3 linked regions of the Homo sapiens genome follow. The protein of the gene in region 3 interacts with the protein of the main gene of each other region in a biochemical or structural test. Each region holds a gene or a part of one and is shown on either strand. Other genes may lie near its edges.

Region 1 (7,024 bases), on a different chromosome or scaffold from region 3:
CAACTGAAATGTCTTTGTATAGAAATCAACAAGGTCAGGCCAGGCGCGGTGGCTCATGCCTGTAATCCCAGCACTTTGGGAGGCCGAGGCGAGCCGATCATGAGGTCAGGATATCGAGATCATCCTGGCTAACATGGTGAAACCCCGTCTCTACTAAAAATACAAAAAAATTAGCCAGGCGTGGTGGCGGGCGCCTGTAGTCCCAGCTACTCAGGAGGCTGAGGCAGGAGAATGTTGTGAACCCAGGAGGTGGAGCTTGCAGTGAGCCGAGATCGCGCCACTGCACTCCAGCCTGGGCGACAGAGCAAGACCTCTGTCTCAAAAAAAAAAAAAAAAAAAAAAAAAAAAATTTTAAGAAATCAACAAGGTCAGGGTTAATTAATGCACTATTTGCACCTTGAAATAATAACTCTACTTGTTTTTTTTTTTTTTTTTTTGAGACGGAGTTTCCCTCTTGTTGCCCGGGTTGGAGTGCAATGGCGCAATCTCGGCGCACTGCAACCTCTGCCTCCGGGGTTCAAGGGATTCTCCTGCCTCAGTCTCCCTAGTAGCTGGGATTACAGGCAGATGGCATGACGCCTAGCTATTTTTTTTATTTTTAGTAGAGACGGGGTTTCACCATGTTGCTCAAGGCTGGTTTCGAACTCCTGACCTCAGGTGATTGCCTGCCTGGGTCTCCCAAAGTGCTGGGATTATAGGTGTGAGCCACCACGCCAGGCCTAATAACTCCACTTTTAAAGTTTTATGTTGTTTAGATTGTAGTTTACTCTTTAATTACCAGTGTTTAAGATTAGTAACAAAAGATGTTAACTACTAAAATTCATTCATTCTTTCACAATTTTATTGGTCTTCACAAATAAATGAAAAAGTACTAAAAGGAAGATTTCTAAAACAATAGGTTTCTACAGAAGCAATTCCATCATTTATTTAAGTCGGGATCTAACTTCTAGGTGTTTTTAAAAACAGAAAATAAAAAACAGAAAAATATTTTTAAAAAATCTCTTTCCCATTAGCCTGTAATTATTGATAGTAAATGCTCCCATGATTTTCCAGATCAATACTACTATCTGGTGGTAATAATTAATTTGGAAGAATTATAGTACAATATTAAGCTTCTACAAGAGTTGTCCTAGACATTTTCACATACAGAAATAACTATATAGCATGAACTATGAAGCATGTTATTTTGTAGAAATTAATCAATAAAATCTACAGTAAAAAGGAAAAAAAAAATCTAACAACTTACCACATTTCTCATTTTCAGAGGTTATCAAGCCCTACGAGGAAGACATTTAATACCTATTACAATACATTCATTTTATATACAAATAATAGAAAGCTGGGTCTGTTATGGGTATATATCCCAAGAAATCAAGGCCTATCATTTTCAGCATCAGAGGAAAAGCAAACAATTGTTTTTTAATTAGGCTTAAAATTTTAAAATGTTATGCTATTTCTCCTTGGAGTAAATGTTTCTGGATGAGCACTGAAAAGCATGGGCTACTGCATGAAGGAACATACAGCTGTGTTTTGCCAGCCACTATTACTAATTATATCATTATTGTATTTTATATGTCAATTAAACTACATCATGTCTTAAAATCAAATATAAGATGTAGCTAAATTTCAGAGATATTAAAGTATGGGAGAAAATACAAAAAGTATTAATGTTAATAAAAAATGTTATCTCCTATGGACAAATGTGTTGTTGCTGAGACAGGGTCTCACTCTGTCACTCAGGCTGGAGTGCAGTGGTGTGATCATGGCTCACTGCAGCCTTGACCTCTGGGGCCCAAGCAATCCTCCCATCTCAGCCTCCCAAAAAGCTGGGACCATAGACATGCGCCACCACGCCTGGCTAATTTTAAAAATTTTTGTAGAGATAAGGTCTCCCCATGTTGCCCAGGATGGTCTTGAACTCCTGGGCTCAAGTGATCCTTCTGCTTGGCCTCCCAAAGTGCTGTGATTACAGACATGAGCCACCATGCCACGCCCTCAAAATATTTAATTGCCAAAACATTTCTCGAATGTCAAAGAAATGCCAGGTAGCCAGAAAAAAACAAAAGAAGCGACTATGTGCCTAGTGTTATAATGGGAAGCATCTAGAAATGTAAGAAAGAATTAGGACCCTGAAAATAGTAACTCCTATTTCATTCATACCTTCAAAATTATTTGAAGCATAATTTACATATTTCAAAAACAGCTTGAGAAAACAATACTTTAAAGTGATAGTTGTATGTAGATCAGGTTACCCTTTTAAAAAATTTCAGAACCTACCTTTTATATGGGCTTTTCATCTGAAATCTTAGTATAAGAAATGCCGATCAAAAATTACAAACTATATTTAACGATCTTAAGATGACAGCTATTTCAACAACTGCAAGATTAGTTAACAAAAGAGTAGAAATGTTAAGCTATAACTGTTCCAATTCCAAAAGGACTTACTTCAGACTTTTTTTGTTCAGATCGTTCCTGACTTTGAAGTTCACTCCATTCCGATCTTACAGGTGTATCTGAGAAAAATGAAATCTTATTGTTATTAACACCTTGAATTTCTGAAATTTCTTTGCATTAAAGTAATACAAAAAACAGATCCTAAAGATTTTAGAAACTATCGCTTCCACAAAAATTTTGTAGTTTCTGGGTAAGCATATTTCTGAAGTTTCTAAAAAAAAAAAATTGTAGTTTCTATTAATTCGAGAACATTCTGTTTCCTTCCTTCAAAACCTAAGTAAATAAATTCAGTCATCAGTGTATTACAGTCTATAGATAATGTGACAGACAAGTGAAGTATACTGCTTAATCTACAGACAACGTGACAGACTTAGACAACTGAAGTATACCGTTTCATTGCTTTCAACATTCTTTTTAATTGTTGTTGAGACAGGGTCTCACTCTGTTGACCAGGCGCGATCTCGGCTCACTGGAGCCTCAACCTCCCAGGCTCAGGCAATCTTCCCATCTCAGCTTCTTGAGTAGCTGGGACTATAGGTGCATGCCACCTCGCCTGGCTAATTTTTGATTTTATACAGACAGGGTTTTGCCATGTTGCCCAGGCTGGTCTCAAACTCCTAGGGCAAATGGAACAGAGATCCACCTGCCTTGGTCTCCCAAAGTGCTGGGATCACAGGCATAAGCCATTGTGCTTGGCTCTTTAACATTTATCTTAAAATCAGTCAAAATTCACTTTGGGAGGCTGAGGCAGGCAGATCACTTGAGGTCAGGAGTTCAAGACCAGCCTGGCCAACATGGTGAGACCCTATCTCTAATAAAAAAATTAGTTGGGAGTGACGGTGTATGCCTCTAATCGCAGCTACTCAGGAGGCTGAGGCAGGAGAACAGCTTGAGCCCAGATCGTGCCACTGCACTCCAGCCTGAGTGACAGAGTGGAACTCCAACTCGAAATAAAACAAAACAAGGCCGGGCGTGGTGGCTCCCGCCTGTAATCCCAGCACTTTGGGAGGCTGAGGCGGGCGATCACGAGGTCAGGAGATGGAGACCATCCTGGCTAACATGGTGAAACCCTGTCTCTACTAAAAAAATACAAAAAAATTAGCCGGGCGTGGTGGCTCATGCCTGTAATCCCAGCACTTTGAGAGGCTGAGGTGGGCGGATCATGAGGTCAGGAGATGGACCATCCTGGCTAACACGGTGAAACCCTGTCTCTACTAAAAAAAATACAAAAAAATAAGCCGGGTGTGGTGGCAGGCACCTGTAGTCCCAGCTACATGGGAGGCTGAGGCAGGAGAATGGCATGAACCCAAGAGGTGGAGCTTGCAGTGAGCCGAGATCGTGCCACTGCACTCCAGCCGGGGCGACAGAATGAGACTCCATCTCAAAAAAATGAATAAATAAAAAATAAATAAATAAAAAGAAAACCAAATGAAACAAAACAAAAATCAGTCAAAATTAATATATTGGTAAAATGTACTTAGACAAGTGAGCACCTCCACTGAGCATGAGACACTGTAAATACAATCAAGCTGTTTCTGCACTCTTTTTTAGAGGATTAATAGGGAGAAGTATATTATCAATGTTTTAAAGTATCATCACTTTCTCCCAGTTCTGATACTCCAGTGGTCTTTTTTTTTTCTTCCACAGACGGGGTCTCACTGTTACCAAACTGGAGTACAGTGGTGCGATCATGGCTCACTGCAGCCTCCAACTACAGGGATCAAGCAATCCTTCTTCTTCAGCCTCCTGAGTAGCAAGGACTACAGGCACATGCCACCACACCTGGCTAATTTTTTGTTGTTATTATTATTTTTTGAGACAAAGTTTTTTGCTCTTGTTGCCCAGGCTGGAATGCAATGGCGTGGTCTCAGCTCGCTGCAACCTCTGCATCCTGGGTTCAAGCAATTCTCCTGCCTCAGCCTCCCAAGCAGCTGGGATTACAGGCGCCCACCACCACAACTGGACAGTTATTTTATTTTTAGAAGAGAGGAGGTATCACTGTGTTGCCCAGGCTGGTCTCAAACTCTTAGGCTCAAGCAATCCTCGCGCCTTGGACTCCCAAAGTGCTGCGATTACAGGTATGAGCCAATGTGCTCAGTCTACTCCAGTGGTGTTAAATGTCTTTCAGTTAACACCAATCCAGTGACGCCCACCCAACAGAAATGTTTACTGACCTAAATCTAAGGAAAGCAATTAATGTTTTCATAAATAAGTGCTACTTTTTTTTTTTTTGAGATGGAGTCTTGCTCTGTTGCCCAGGCTGGAGTGCAGTGGCATGGTCTCGGCTCACTCCAACCTCTGCCTCCGGGGTTCAAGCGATTCTCCTGCCTCAGCCTCCCGAGCAGCTGGGACTACTGGTGCATGCCACCACACACAGCTAATTTTTTGTATTTCTAGTAGAGACAGGGTTTCAGTGTGTTAGCCAGGATGGTCTTGATGTCCTGACCTCGTGATCTGCCCGCCTTGGTCTCCCAAAGTGGCAGGATTACAGGCATGAGTCAATAAGTGCTATTTTTAATGAATGAAAATACACCAGATTGCAAATACACTTATAATTGCATTTTTTTTTTAAGATGGAGTTTCGCTCTTGTTGCCCAGGTTGGAGTGCAATAGTGTGATCTCGGCTCACTGCAATATCCACCTCCCAGGTTCAAGCAATTCTCCTGCCTCAGTCTCCCAAGTAGGTGGGATTACAGGCATGCGCCACCACGCCTGGCTAATTTTGTATTTTTAGTAGAGACGGGGTTTCTCCATGTTGGTCACGCTGGTCTTGAACTCCTGACCTCAGGTGATCAGTGCATCTCAGCCTCCCAAGGTGCTGGGATTACAGGTATGAGCCACTGCACCTGGCTTTGTAATTGCATTTATTTATTTATTTACTTTTTGAGACGAAATCTTGCTCTTCGCCCAGGCTGGAATGCAATGGCGCAATCTCGGCTCACTGCAACCTCCAACTCCCGGGTTCAAGTCATTTTCCTGCCTCAGCCTCTCAAGTAGCTGAGATTATAGGTGTCCACCACCATGCCCAGCTAATTTTTATATTTTTAGTAGAGATGGAGTTTCACCATGTTGGCCAGGCTGGTCTCCAACTCCTGACCTCAGGTGATCCACCTGCCTAGGCCTCCCAAAGTGCTAGGATCACAGGCTTGAACCACCATGCCCAGCCTATAATTACATTTAAATGAATTGAATTCTGATATCTAACATAAATGCAGTAATTTCTATCGATCTTAGCAAGTAAAAAATATAATTTAAAAGCATTTTTCAAACAAAGAATTAAAAGCATGTCAACATCAATTTACTTGTTTTTGAATTTAATTATGTAGCACAATAGCTAATAGATTAAAATCAGGTATGTTTTTCGGAGTTTATTATTAGAATATGAAGTAAATGTAAAAGCAAAAGAGACACTCACTATGTTCACTTGCTAACACAAACGATTCAGGAGTTCTTTCAGGTAGGGGAGGAGGTGAATCTTCACTAACATCAACATCTAAATTAAACACATAAAAATTTAGACAAATTAACATGTCATCTAAACAAAATCAGAGAGCTTTCTTGACATTCTAAAAATTCCTGTCACAAATATCTAGATCAGTTTTTAAAAATGCAAAAAAATGCAAGAAACCTTTTCCACTCATTATCAAGAATTATGATGCTTATTGAGCAAAGATAATGTATACAGAAATGACTCTCTCCCATGACTTTCCTGTCACTCTACAGACATCATTCAGTTCTCCAAGCCTGAAGGGAATCTTCAGTAGAGAAGTCAGCTGGCAAGTGACTTCTCTACTGAGCTTACTGATGATGTTTTGTGTCCAAAAAGGAAAGCTTTGGTCATTTGCGTTATGAAACGCCTAAGCCAGTGTTTCCCAAACAGGATTCAATTGCTTAACACCTTTCATGATTTTTGCCATACTATGTAACATGTGTCCTATTCACTTTTAAAATCTGACTCATTTTAAACTTAACTGTGTACCTCAGTCATGTCTTAAACAGCAATAACTGAAATAACATTGGAAATACTAGTTATTTTTCCAAAACAGATAAAGATATAGCTATTAAAGTTTTTTAAAAAATCTTCATTTATTTATTGCTAAAGATTTTGTGTACAGTGGCACATGGCTGTACTTTGAGAATGCTGACTGAAGCTATATACAGGTTTTTCACTAGTAAAAACAAAATTAGCTCTTGGGAAAGAGAGTGCATTAAGTAAGCCTCATTGGTTAGCTTTATTATGGCTTAAGGTAAATGAGTGTATTTGATCTTTGAGTTTTCACTGGAGGAATAGAAAGAAAATATAAGAATACAATCCTGTGTGTGAACTCTCAGGTTGGGGAGGGTGGGATAAAGAAAAAGAAATGCGACGGTCCTGTATTATTTTGTCTTGAGCCTTGCCCATTGTTCTTAAATGAACACACAGTTCTGCCATGATACTCTGCTATTTTACCACACCTGATGGCTATGCATAGGTCTTGTCAATTTTCAACACGCATGAGGTGAGTATGATTGCTTTTGCCCCACCTACATTTATTTAGCTGGAGACGCAAGAAAATACAGCTTCTGGGTC
Region 2 (7,024 bases), on a different chromosome or scaffold from region 3:
GATTTTAAAAAGCCATTCGCAAACATAAAAACTGTTGTTATTGATGTGGCACGCACCTGAGAGAAATAAAATTCCAGTGGGGTCCCTTCCTGGAGGTCACGGCTCAAGGCCAGGCAGAGTGTGGTCTGCAGGCTGCCTGCATGGGGGCCCTGCATGCGTCCTGGGGTAGTACACGCTCCTGTGGGGGCCCTGCATGCATCCTGGGGTAGTACACGCTCCTGTGGGGGCCCTGCATGCGTCCTGGGGTAGTACACGCTCCTGTGGGGGCCCTGCATGCGTCCGGTCCGGGGATAGGACACGCTCCTGTGGGGGCCCTGCATGCGTCCTGGGGTAGTACACGCTCCAGTGGGGGCCCTGCATGCGTCCTGGGGTAGTACACGCTCCTGTGGGGGCCCTGCATGCGTTCTGGGGTAGTACACGCTCCTGTGGGGGCCCTGCATGCGTCCAGGGATAGGACATGCTCCTGTGGGGGCCCTGCATGCGTCCGGGGATAGGACACGCTCCTGTGGGGGCCCTGCATGCGTCCGGGGATAGGACACGCTCCTCTCAGGCCGTTCCCTACACCGCAAGGACCCACAGGCTGCCTGAGTGGCAGTAGCCTGAGCTGGTTTCAAGGAGTTTTATTTCTCTCTGCTGCAAGAACATAAACAGAATTTCCTGGTGAGACATACCAGGACCCCCATCCTCCAATGCCTCTGAACAGACTGTGTGTGCAATGTGTCAACTGAACGCTCAATTTACGGCCTCTGCTGGGAGCCACGCATCGGGAAAGGACTTTGCATGAATTTGTGGTTTCCTCCATTTCACCTTCTGCACAGCTAAACCAAGCAGGACACTTGGCTTTTTAATATGGGCAAAGTAAATGGTCTAGGAAGCTACTGTGAGCACGGGGATTCTCAGCAGGTGCGTCTACAAGGATCGTGATCCCCGCCTGAGAACACAGTGCCCCTGGGGCAGCCTCAGAGCCGGGAGCAGGGAGCAGGGAGGGAGGGAGCCTCACACAGACAGCATGAAGTTAGACGTTTTTCTGCCCTGCAGGGACAACAACGGGGTGGACCTCGCTGCACAGATCTACGTCGTTATTACAGCAACACAAGACACGGCGAGGTGCGCTCCCGGCACGGAAAGGTGTAAACAGTCAGAAGAGAGGAGTCTTCTGCTTTGTTGTTTGTGTTTTCAGTAGAGGTTGAAGAGTAGAAGTTGCCCTCCTTTCTCTCGAAACTTAGATTTCCTTGGTTTGTTCGTGTCTCTCCCATTGCAGGATGACTTCCTGGGGTCTTCGTCTCTGCTCCCTCTACACCTTGAGCCAGTGGCGGAGCTGGAAAGAAAACAGGTTTAGTCAGAAACCCTGGGGCGATGCCCCATTTAAGAGCAGCTGAAGGTGGCTAAGAGCAGCTGAAGGCAGTGAGCAGACAGTTTGCAGCCTCCTGGCCATGTGCCCTGGGAGAAGGGGAGGCTCACTGGGGGCCTGGACCAACACACCCTTGACAGGTGCCGGGGATCCGATGCCTCACTCAAACTCCTACAAATCAATCATTACTTGATTTTTTAAAAAGCCGCGAGACTGTGGTTGGCGTGGTGGCCATGGTGGCCTCTGGGGCGTATTGATCAGATGCTGAGTCTGAGAGATGCCGGGCACCCTCAGTCCGGGGCTGGTTCCAGATTGTACCCCAGCGACTTGGGTGTGACGTGGTGATGTCACCTCTCCCCCACGTCCCTCCACCTTCCTGGGGGCCTCAGATGCTCCATCTGAGTGACACGCTACCTCTGCAGCTCCATCTTGCTCTCTGCGACCCGCGCGGGCGCAAGTGCAGCGTGTACTGACTGCTCAGGGACTGATGAGATAGACAAGAGCAGCTATTTACACCACCAGCAAATGTCATCGCCTGCTATTATGCAGCTGTTAGTTCAGCCTGTTTGTGAGCGTCAAAGCCCCTCGATAGCACTAAATGGCAAGAAGTGTGCTTCATAAACATTTCCAAACAGGGGCATGCGGGGCTTGCTTCTGACAAAACCACGCCGGCCATGGAAAGCCACTGAAGCTACCACTGGCCACACCACAGGCTCCTCTGGCCACTCCACCAAGAGCCTGCAGGGACCTCCTCAGCCAGGGTGGGATCACACTGCAGGCCAGGGGTCTACCGGGGGCCTGGAGCAGCCACAGCTGATGCCGGCACAGGCAGCATCCAGGTGCAGCTCGGGGCTCAGTGAAGGAAGCTGGGGTCAGGGAGCCCGGCCAGGACCCACAGCCACGGGTGGCCCAGCGGCCAGAGCCCTAGAGCAGAGGCTCTGGGTGGCAGCCCCACTTCAGGCCAGCGATGAAGAAGCCATGCTTGGGACTTCAGCTGTGAGTCCTGTTCCCCCCAGGGTGAAGCAGTTCTCTGTCCTGCCCGCTGACAGAAGCAGAAGGTCCCCTCTGGAGGGAGGTGTGCTTGGGGGCTCCCAGATTCCCACAGATTAAGATCAAGCCATAAATGTAAAATAAAGACTAGAAACAGAAGACAGCAGCCCACTCTAAGTGAGTCCCCAGAAACCAGACCTCAATTTGACCCCAAAGGACCAGAGCTGTTGCAACAGATTACAGGATGGCCACATAGGGGACTCTCAGAAAAGTGACACACGCACATCACAGTGATGAGAATTTCACAAGAAACAGCAGAGCACACGCAGCTTCCAGAGATGAAGTAGAAAAGAGAATGGCTGGGCTGCAGACCAGGGGCAGGGCAGTGGAATGCGGAGCGTCCATAGCTGAGCTGTGGTTTGTTCACGTGACGGACGGTCAGGGACCAGTCACGGTAGGTGAAACGTAGCTATGGATACAAACATTTCTGACCTAGATGGAATAATAGGGATCGAATTTACCCTACTGTCCGAAACAAGCCCCAAATAAACAAAACACACGTGCCGATGACCTTCCAGACCATGGACACCAGACCGTAAGGGTCAGTGGTCCCTGAGGGAAGCCAACAAGGAGGCCCCCCTGCCACCCTGCTCGCTGCCTCGAGGGAGTTTCTAGATTGCAGCACAGGGAGGGTGCAGCCTGGTGGACTCCCTGAGCTGAGACGCTGGAAAGGAGAGCGAGGGAAACGGAGGTGGCTGCAGTTTGCAGGCCAGAGCGCCAGAGAGGAGGTGGCCACACAGAGAGAAGACCCGGGACAATGGCCCAGGACCCCTGCTGAGGGTTCAGACGAGCACATCCCGCTGTGAATGAGGAGGCTGGGGAGAGATCCGCCGACAGGACCAGAGGGAACCACCTCTGATGCCCACACAGGGCTGGGCACGGTGCCTGTTCCCCCAGCCAGGAGAATGTCATGATTCTCGGGGATCTGCATGGGGTGTGCATAAGGTCTTGCTTCAGTAGGGGTTGGTTAGGGCTACACCAAATGCTGAAGCCAAATAATACACTTTTTAGGAAGCTAGAAATATCTAGAGATGCAACAAATGAAATTGTAAGAAGGGCAAGGGAAAGATCAAGCTAGACGCAGATACAGAATGGGTGAGGGGCAGGCAGTTTCCACAGTGCCTAGTTTTCCTGCTGTGGGCTCACAAGGGTCTGTTTGTTACGGTGACAAATTAATAATTTAAAAATGGCCACATGTGGATTAATGATAAGATGCGTTACTCAACTGTGCACCTAAGATTCAAATGAAAACAAAATCTAAGTGAGGTAAGAGACCTGGAGGACCTGGGGCAAAGTGGACACACCAGAGCCTCATAATGGAAAACACAGAAAGGCAGAAGGCAATCTTTCAGTGTGTGGCTGCAAAATTCACAGAATGACAAGATTTGTGAATCCACAGATCTGGCCACAAAACATATCCAGAGAGGAAAAATAAAAAGAAACCAAATTAACGGTGGTGGGTGCCTGCAGTCCCAGCTACTCGGGAGGCTGAGGCAGGAGAATGGCGCGAACCCGGGAGGCGGAGCTTGCAGTGAGCCGAGATTGCGCCACTGCACTCCAGCCTGGGCTACAGAGCGAGACTCCGTCTCAAAACAAACAAACAAACAAACAAACAAACAAAAAAGAAACCCAGGTCCCGACACTCCGCAGTGAACCCGAGACACCGAAAGCAGAAGAAACTCGGCCGAGTGCAGGGGTGAGGACAGAGCCCACCACAGAGCAGGCTCACAGGCCACACATCTCAGCACAGCCACGGAACACTGCTGCCTCCAAAACGCAGAGATAGTCCCTGTCAGCCTAGAGCCCTGAGCCCACAACAGTGCTTTCGTGAATGAGAGCAGCATAAAGATGTTCCCACACACCAATAGTGAGGGAGGTTAGCAAGAGACCTCCTCAAAGGAATGTCTGAAGGATGCTTTTTGAAAAGCAAGAAAATGGTCCTAGAAGAAAAGAAGTCTATAACAAAAGTATGGGAACCAACAAACACCAAGCATGCACATTAGTCCAAGGAACATGATGAGTCCGTACAAAATAATAACAGGAACAAGAACAATGACAGTGTCTAATTTGTGGGTTAAAAAGAGAGAAATAGATTTGAACAATCATAGCATGTTCATCAGTAGGAGGAAGATTTAAGTCCTTATAATGGGATGGGGTTAAAATATGGTTTCTCTGTAGAGTTTAAGTGAAATATGTATGGTACAACCTCAAGAGTAGCTATTAAAGGAATAGAATAAGTCCGGGCACAGTGGCTTACGGCTGTAATCCCAGCACTCTGGGAGGCAGAGGTGGGCAGATCACTTGAGATCAGGAGTTCGAGACCAGCCTGGCCAACATGGTCAAACCCTGTCTCTACTAAAAACACAAAAATTATCCAGGTGTGGTGCTGGGCACCTGTAATCCCAGCCACTTGAGAGGCTGAGGCAGGACAATTGCTTGAACCTGGGAGGTGGAGGTTGCAGTGAGCAGAGATCATGCCACTGCACTCCAGCCTGGGTGACAGAGCAAGACTCCACCTCAAAAAAAAAAAAAAAAAGAATAAAGTATGTAAGTTCTAAGCAAGTAGAGAGAAATAAACGGAATAATAAAAATGAGTGAACCAAGAAAAATCAATCTATAAAAAGGCAATAAAGGAGAAAAACACTAAAAATGGGACAAATGGAATAGAAAGATAGTAGAATCAAGTTCAAATATATCAATAATCACAACAAATGTAAATGGATTAACCTGTCCAACTGTCAGCGTAAAAAATTCTAGGTGTATGCTGGGTTTGCAAAAGACACTTAAATCTTAAGGTTACTGCAAAGTTGAAAGTTAACAGATTGCAAAAGATATTTCAGGCAAACTCAAAAGACACCTTGGTGCAACTATATTTGTCCCAGACAAGTCAGACTTTAAGACCAAAAGCATCATTAGGGAGTGAAGATGGGTTCATGTCACCAGGAAGAGATGATCATTCTGGACATGGATCAACCTCAGAAAACAGCCTCAGACTACAGAGAGCAAAACCTGATAGAACTGAGGGGAACAGCAAACAAATATACTATCGAGGAAGAATATGCCACAGGCATCTCTCAATTACTCATGGTCAAGCACCCCTAAAGTTGACAAAGTGTAGACAATGTGGGTAACATAATATATAACCCTACTCAAATGGACAGAAGCAGAACTGTGTATTGACAATTAGAGAATAGCACATTCATCTAAAAGATGTGCAACGTTTATCAAAGTTGATCAGGTATAAGGCCCTAAAGAAGTCTCAATACATTTTAAATAATAGGTATCATATGTGTTTGAGAACAATGAAATTAATTTGGAAATTAAAAACAAAAAGATGAGTAAAACATCCCCATATATTTGGCAATTTAAAAGCAGACTTTTAAGCAAGTTATGAGTTGACAAAGTCACAATGGAAATTAAAATATACTTAGAACTAAAAGATAAAGAAAAATACTATGAAAAAAATACGGAATGTAGCACATGGAGTATTTTGAGGGAAATTCATAGCCTTGAGTGCTTACATTAGAAAAGAACGAAGGATGCAAATTAATAACCTAAAGTCCAAATTAAAAAGTTAGCAAAACTACAACAGAGTAGATCCAAGAAAAAGAGAGGAAGAAATGATAAATACAGGAGCTGAGATTAATGTGACAGGAAGCACAGCAAGAATCTCACATGAAGTCAAAGTTGGATATTTGAGAAGACTAGCAAGATCCTGTACAAAGTGTAAGACCCCCAGGTATAGGACTCTCAGAGGAGAGAGGCTCTGGTGGAGCAGGACCGGAGGCCCAGTGGGGAGGGGCTGGCATCCTCTGGATGGATGGGATGGGATGCCTGGACACGCCTCCTGTGTTTGGAGCAGGCAAGTCACTGGGAGGACAGAGGAAAGGGTGCCAACGGAGGGAGGCAGAGCCCACACCAGAACCTGACTTGCAGGTAGGAGGAACAAGCTGTGCAGATGTGTGCTCAGAGGCGGCTTCTCCCCACTGCCTCCCGGCCTGTTCCCTGCTCAGCGTCTTGTTCTGCCTGACGTCACCACCCACCTCCCAGGCACGCAGAGCCCCCTCCCTCTGCCTGTATCCTTGCTCCTGCCCCATGTGCAGGTCCATGCTGGGCTCCTCAGGCATGAGCTCATGAGACCCCTGCTGGGAGGACTGTTTACGAGAACCAGCCACAGAGAGGTGGCCAGAGGGAAGAGGCAGGTCCGAGGTGGGGCCGCGGTGCCCTCCACACTATGGCCTTCTCTCCCTTTTGCTGTGCATTGGACTCTGCTGTCGGCATTAGGCTGACATTAGTGTATGGAATCAGGTCGGGGCTGAGGCCACTCTGGGGTGGAGGAGGACAGTGCCACAGGCCCAGGGCACAGCCCAGGCTCCTCTCCTGCTGGCCAGCTCTGTGATCTTGGGCACATTCCGGGGCCTCTCTGGGTCTCAGGGACCCTGGTGTAGAGAGAGTGCTGGGCTGCCTCTTAGGGTTGTGGGAGTAAAAACACGTCAAGTGTTTACTGTGTGCCCCCGGGAATGCACCTGCTCCACGGCATGTCATGAACATGTTCGCACACAGCTGGATGGCTCCCAGGGTGCAGGAAACACCTGGCGTGACCATCCTCTCACTCGAAGCCAG
Region 3 (6,887 bases):
ACAGCTGTTGTCAATCACATCTGCTCAGTCAATAAAACAAGGACCAGTGAACCCAGTCCAGACTCTGACGGAGGAAGAGAGAGCCTTTGTAGATGCCTGAGAGATATTGGGTGGAGCCACAGAGTGTTTTGTGAAGATCAGATGAGATGAGGGTTTGTAAAGGAGCTGGCACAGTGCCTGGCACACAGTAGGACCACAATAAATGGTAACATGGTTGGAATTTTCACCCTACCACTAACCTGCTGTGTGGTTCAGAGCTTCAGTTTCCTCATCCATAAAACATAAGTAATAATGATACCCACTTCCCAGATTAACTTACTAAAAGGGAACAGCATAAAGCCCAGCTCTCACTAAAGATGGGTCTGTGACAGGTCTCTGCCTCCCTTCTCACAAGGCTCCACTTACTTGCCCAGCAATAGGTTTATTGCAGGAGCCACAGAGGCCTTTGGCCTGGGTGGGAACACCCCGGCGGCTGAGGTCGGACTGCAGCAGCCCCAGCATGGTGTCTAGGCTGCCCTTGCCAGTCGGCTCTGGTGGGGATGGGGAGCCCTCATTTGTGGAGCTCACCACCGGTGGCTGAGTTGGCCCAGAGGCTGGAAGCTGCAGCGGGGAGGACATGAGAATTGAGTCAGCAAAGCAGCAGATGTGGAATTGTCTAGAAGGGGTTGGGGAGCCACAAATGGACACTGGCCCACTGCCCAACTCACATGGTTTTGAACGCGGAAGTCAGAGAGTGAGGCCATCAGTCTATCCAGCTCCAGAGTGGCTGAGGTGGCAGAAGCCTTTGGGAGGCCAGGAGACGGGCTGGAAGGGCTGTGAAGAACATGCTTGTGTCATCTCAGAGCCTCCCAGAGCAACGCTCCCTCTAGTGACTCAGATATCCAGGACTCATCTCTCAGCCCTGACAACGACGCCAAACTCACAGGCTGGGTCTTTTCTTATCTTCAGACTGGTCCTCCTTCTGCTCTCCTGAAGCCACCTTGCTAGATGGGAACTGAGACATGATTTCATCTGGAGAGAGGAGAGGAGGACGCTACATATAGGGCCATGCTCAACGCACCCTCACACTTGAGGCTTTAGGTCCCTTTAACTGCTACTCTGGGAAGTGTATTCCTCTTAGTCTCTGCCCCACCCTTCCCTCCCCTGCCCCTATCGCATCAAGGCCTCTCTCAGTCACCCTGGTACCTGTGATGTTGAACTGAGTGGCATTAAGTTCCTGAAGCAACCGATCTAGCTCACAGAGCCCGGTACCCAAGACACCGCTGGAAGAGGAGAATGGAGGGGCCGCCGGGGCTGCAGGCTTTGGGGACCGAGGCTTGCATACCGTGCTGGGAAGCAGAGTGGGAGCCTGGGTTCAGGGGTGGGGAATCCAAGCCTCCTCACCTGAGACTCAGTTGGCCCCCATGCCCTGGTTTCCAGGCCCCTCACCTGTACAGGTGGTCCTTGTCCCCCGAGGCTCCTGAAGACTCCCCAGACCCTGTCTACAGAGCGGAGACGCACAGGTGGGATGACAGGCCTGCACTCTGCCCCACTGAGGCTGAGATCCCCATAGACCAGGCCGAGCCTGGCCCTAGTGGCTGCCCCAGTCCCCAACATCCGATCTCACCTGTGGCTGGTGGCCATAGGATGGGGGAGGGGTGAGAGGCTCCGCAGGGCGCTCTTTGGGAGCCCCTGACCTTGGCATGTGCGAGGTGGTAGTCTCCAGGTCAGAGAGCAGGGCATCTGCAGGAAGAGGCCATCAGGGAGAGAGACAAGGGTCACGGTTAGATCAGAAGATAAGGTTCCCAGTGGGCAGTACTGGAGAAGGACAGAAGCCAGTATTAAGAGAAGAGGTCACAGGGCCAGAGCCAGGCAGAGCACTGCTCGAAGGGTAGCAAGGAATATTTATGACCAGAATATCCCAGTTGCTCACGCTTGGAGCCAAGCACAAACCCAGCCTCCTGATTATTTTATTCTCCCCATCTTCTCTGATGCAGTCAAAATGGGCTCTTCACCCAAGCCAAATTTGGCTCCCCTCCAAATTGCTCCATTGGCCCAGTGCCTGGCCCTCAGCTTTCTGATTGGACGCTCTCTCTTCCATGCTGGTTAACTCCTCCCTCTACCTACACAGGCCCCGCCCAGCCTGGCCACTCCCAGGCCCCTGAGTCCCGCCCTGGGCTCCTCACTGGCGCTTCGCTGGGACCTGCCTTCTGATTGGCTGTTTATCTGCGGTACAGCGTCAGTTACCCCTACCGAGCAGCGCCCTCTACCGCCAGGGGCCGGAAGCCCCTCTCTCCCGTGGAGCGCACAGCCTTCCAGCCCCAGGCTTCGCAGGGAGGACGAGATACCTGGGTCCCCCTTCCGGACAAGACACCTCTCTCCATCCCTGCATCCCCAGATCCGGGTCTTTTGAGCCCTTTCACTTCCAGAACCCAGAAGTCCTGCCCTCAGTCTTCGTCTCTGAGCACCCGCGTGAAACCCTGAAGCCTTCGCGGGCGCCTAGGCACTCCTGAGTTACTATTCTCTTCCTTGCCTCAAGGACCTGACCCTCACTGTGCTCAGGAGCCCTTAACTCCTCCTCTCCCAAAACTCTGGTGCAGGCAGGCCCGCTTTTTTTCTCCAAAACTTGATGCCAGACTTTCCCGTGCCCTCTACTTTCCCGGTCCCCGGGCCGAGGCCCCTTTAACCCCTCCCTCCCCAGAGCCCCGCGCCCGGGCGCCCGCGGGCGCCGCACCTCCCGTTCCATCTGCCGCAGCCTGGGATGGAGGAGCACAGCGAGGGAAGAAGGGAGGGAGCGGCCGGCCCAGGAAAGGCAGGAAGGGAGAGGCAGGAAGGGGGACGTGGAGTTGGAAAGGAGGCGCGGGCAGAGGCGAAAAGCAGAAGTAAGAAGACAGGGATGGGGAGATGCGGGAGAGCGACGGCGGGGAGGCAGCTCTGGGCAGCGGTGAGGGGCCACGGACCCGGGGATCCGGCCCCACTCACCCAGGTCCTCCATGGCGGGGCGCGGGCCGGTGGCGCGGGGCGAACAGGGCGGGGGCCGTGTCCGGTGGGGGCGGGGGGCGGGGGACGTCCGGGAGCTGGAAGCCCGGCCGTGACCATGTAAGGAAGCCGGGACCCGCTGAGATGGGGATGGGGGGGCGATGAACGGGGGAACCCGAGGTGGGGGCGTGGAAAGGAGGGAGCGCCCCGGCCCACCCGAGCCCAGCCCGCCGGCCTGCCGCGGAGGCGGCCACACCCCAGCCTTGGCCTCAGCTGCAGGGAGCCCCAGGAGGCCAGAGCCAGAGAGAAGTGGCTTCTCCAGACCAAGCCCCAGAGCCGCTCCCTAGGGAGACTTACAGACACGGACTGAGGCCCCCAAACAGACACCGCTCAAAGCTAGCGCCTGAGTCCTAGACAAGAGCCTCCCTCCCACCCATGCCATTCCTGGGAGACTTGTCCCAGACGGAATTTTTGGATTGGTAGCAGGAGTGATATTCTAAGGCTCAATTAGACCTCAGGTTCGGAGACCCTCCCATCGGAGACCCTGACAGATAAATAGAGGCCCCAAGAGGCATACATACCAGACACAAAGAAATCTGAGGGACGGGGACAGACACAGTGAACCCACCCACAGACTCTACACTAGGACCTTCCCTCCAAGACTTGGTCATGGACACACGTAAACTCGAACCCGGGCGCAAGCCCCTTGCAAATTCGGGGAAAACACTCCCAGGCAACCAACCCCCAGCCAGCCTGCAAGACAAAGCCCTTCCTCAGCACTGAGGTGGCCCAGGCCTGCTCTGAAACAGCCCTTTCCCAAGTTACTGATGAACTCAGAGCAGAAAGCAAGACACAGTCTCCAGCCACAAAGTGGCAAGGCCTTCCCTGGACTGAGACCCTGAGAAACGAGGTGGAAACGAGAGGCCATAGAGGTAGTTATGGACAGACAACTGTGCTGCAGCCACTCTTCTGGACAGATCTGAGCACTGGAATGTGAGTATCAACCCAGCAGCAAATCGGAACAACCTGGGGAGCTTTTTAAAAATGCGAGACAGGCATGGTGGCTCACACCTATAATCCTAGCACTTTGGGAGGTCAAGGCGGGCAGGTCACTTGAGGTCAGGAGTTCGAGACCAGCCTGGCCAACATGACAAAACCCCATCTCTACTAAAAACACAAAATTAGCTGTGCGTGGTGGTGGGAGCCTGTAATTCCAGCTACTTGGGAGGCTGAGACAGGAGAATTGCTTGAAACCTGGAGGCAGAGGCTGCAGTGAGCTGAGATTGTGCCACTGAACTCCTGAGCAACAGAGGAGACCCTGTGTCAAGAATAAAAAAGAAAAAGAAGAAAAAATGGGCAAACGACCTGAATAGACAGTTCAAAGAAGTTATATAAATAGCCAATGATTACATGAAAAGATCCTCAACATCATTAGTCCCCAGAGAAATGCAAATCAAAACTACAATGAGATGCCACATCATACCTATTAGGATGGCAATAACAAAAAAGACAGGTAATTAGGCAAGGAGCAGTGGCTCACACCTGTAATCCTAACACTTTGGAAGGCCGAGGTGGGTGGATCCCCTGAGGTCAGGAGTTCGAGACCAGCCTGGCTAACATGGTGAAAACAGTCTCTACTAAAAACACACAAAAAAATTAGCCAGACATGGTGGTGGGCACCTGTAGTCCCAGCTACTTGGGAGGCTGAGGCGGAAGAATCCCTTGAACCTGGCAGGTGGAGGCTGCAGTGAGCTGAGATCGTGCCACTGCACTCCAGCCTGAGCAACAGAGCGAGACTCCATCTCAAATAATAATGATAATATTTTAAAGGCCAGGCTCAGTGGTTCACGCCTGTAATCCCAACACTCTGGGAGGCCGAGGCGGGCGGATCACCTGAGGTCTGGAGTTGGAGACCAGCCTGGTTAACTTGGCAAAACCCCGTCTCTACTAAAAATACAAAAATTAGCTGGGTGTGGTGGCAGGCACCTGTAATCCCAGCTACTCGGGAGGCTGAGGCAGGAGAATCACTTGAACTCGGGAGGCAGAGGTTGCAGTGAGCAGAGATTGTGCCACTGCACTCCAGCCTGGTGACAGAGTGAGATTCCGACTCAAAAAAAAAAAAAAAAAAAGCTGAAAAGAAAGAGGTAATTAGCAAGTTTTTGTGAGGATATGGAGAGATTGGAACCCTCACACATGGCTGGTTGGAATGTAAAATCGTTCACTAACTTTGGAAAATGGTCTGGCAGTTCCTCACATGTTTAAACATAGAGTTATATGATCCAGCAATTTCCCTTCTAGATATGTAACCAAGAGAAATAAAAGCATATTCCACAAAAAAACTTGTACATGAGTATTCATAGCAGCATTATTCATAATAGCCCGAGTGGAAACAACCCAAATGTCCGTCAACTGATGATTGAAGAAATGAAAGTGGCATATCCATGTCTTAGTCTGTTTTGTGCTGCATCGTAGAATGCCTAAGGCTGGATAATTTATAAAGAATAGAAATATCTTTCTTTCAGTTCTAGAGGTTGGGAAGTCGAAGGTCAAGGGCCCTGCATCTGGTGAGGGCCTTCTTTCTGCCTCATCCCACAGCAGAAAGCAGAAGGGCAAGACAGTGCAAGAGAGGGGGTGGGGTGGGGGCAGAACCCATCCATTTATCTATCAGCTGTCCACTCCCTTGATAACTAACCTACTCATGCAATAATGCCATTAATCCATTCATGAGGGAAGAGCCCACATAACCTAATCACTTCTTAAAGTTCCCACCTCTCAACAGTTGAATTGGGGGTTAAGTTTCCAACACATGAACTCTGGGGTACATGTTCAAACCACAGCAATCCATAAAGTGAAACTGTATTATTCCTAATAAAAAGAAATGAGATGCTACAGTGTGGATGAACCTTGATAACATTAAGCTATATGAAAGAGGCCAGATATGAAAGATCACACATTGTATGATTCCATTTATATGACATGTCCAGAATAGGTCATCTGTAGAGATACGATGTAGATTAGTGATTGCCTAGGGTTGGGGGAAAGGGAGTGTTATGGACTGAATGTTTGTGTCTCCCCCACATTTATACATCACAGTTCAACCCTCAGTGTGACTATATTTGAAGATAGGGCCTGACTGGGCGCGGTGGCTCACGCCTGTAATCCCAGCACTTTGGGAGGCCAAGGCAGACAGATCACCTGAGGTCAGGAGTTCGAGACCAGGCTGGCCAACATGGTGAAACCCCATTTCTACTAAAAATACAAAAAAAGTTAGCCGGGCATGGTGGCACCTGTAATCCCAGCTACTTGGGAGGCTGAGGCATGAGAATTGCTTGAACCAGAGAGGCGGAGGCTGCAATGAGTCAATATTGTACCACCACACTCCAGCCTGGGTGACAGAACAAGATTCCAAAAAATAAAATAAAATAAAATAAAATACCGATGCCCAGTCCAATGTGAGCAAAAAGACCCCAGGCATCAATAGTTTTTCAAAGCTCACTGCTTGGTTCTAATGCATAGCCTGAAAACCAGAGACCTGGACCAACACTCACAGAGGCTCAGAGACAGCAAGTGCCAACCTCAGCTGCCCAGAAGCAAACCTTGGCAGGCCCAGTGCAGCTCTCCCCAAAATCAGGCTGCCACTGAGGAGTCAAAAATCTGCAAGCCAATTATTAAACAGTAAAAGAGCAACAGATGTTGGCATGAATGTGGAGAAAGAGGAATACTTATACACTGTTGGTGGGAATGTAAATTAGCTCAACCTCTCTGGAAAACAGCATAGAGATTTCTCAAAGACCTACAACTAGAACTATCATTTGACTCAGAAATCCCACTAACGAGCATCTACCCACAGGAAAAGAAATCATGTAAAAGACAGCTGGACTCATTGTGTTTATTGCAGTACTATTCACAATAGCAAAGTCATGGACCCA

What was found. Proteins that work in one complex are often made in the same cells at the same time.
Region 1: the proteins of TGFB1I1 (region 3) and PTPN12 form a complex in vitro, tested with the Homo sapiens proteins (one study listed by BioGRID).
Region 2: the proteins of TGFB1I1 (region 3) and SLC6A3 form a complex in vitro, tested with the Homo sapiens proteins (one study listed by BioGRID).

The regions. Positions count from the first base shown.
Region 1 is NC_000007.14:77,631,271-77,638,294, reverse strand, and holds part of PTPN12 (tyrosine-protein phosphatase non-receptor type 12), read right to left. Parts: intron 5,948-7,024; coding exon 5,870-5,947; intron 2,530-5,869; exon of another isoform or gene 2,514-2,529; coding exon 2,446-2,513; intron 1,278-2,445; coding exon 1,247-1,277; intron 1-1,246. UniProt on the Homo sapiens protein: Dephosphorylates a range of proteins, and thereby regulates cellular signaling cascades. Dephosphorylates cellular tyrosine kinases, such as ERBB2 and PTK2B/PYK2, and thereby regulates signaling via ERBB2 and PTK2B/PYK2.
Region 2 is NC_000005.10:1,393,441-1,400,464, forward strand, and holds part of SLC6A3 (sodium-dependent dopamine transporter), read right to left. Parts: intron 1,319-7,024; coding exon 1,295-1,318; 3' UTR 1-1,294. UniProt on the Homo sapiens protein: Mediates sodium- and chloride-dependent transport of dopamine. Also mediates sodium- and chloride-dependent transport of norepinephrine (also known as noradrenaline). Regulator of light-dependent retinal hyaloid vessel regression, downstream of OPN5 signaling.
Region 3 is NC_000016.10:31,468,276-31,475,162, reverse strand, and holds the start of TGFB1I1 (transforming growth factor beta-1-induced transcript 1 protein), read right to left. Parts: upstream 3,012-6,887; 5' UTR 2,975-3,011; coding exon 2,962-2,974; intron 2,956-2,961; exon of another isoform or gene 2,940-2,955; intron 2,761-2,939; exon of another isoform or gene 2,714-2,760; intron 1,959-2,713; exon of another isoform or gene 1,913-1,958; intron 1,723-1,912; coding exon 1,607-1,722; intron 1,482-1,606; coding exon 1,429-1,481; intron 1,329-1,428; coding exon 1,186-1,328; intron 1,012-1,185; coding exon 924-1,011; intron 814-923; coding exon 708-813; intron 601-707; coding exon 406-600; intron 1-405. UniProt on the Homo sapiens protein: Functions as a molecular adapter coordinating multiple protein-protein interactions at the focal adhesion complex and in the nucleus. Links various intracellular signaling modules to plasma membrane receptors and regulates the Wnt and TGFB signaling pathways.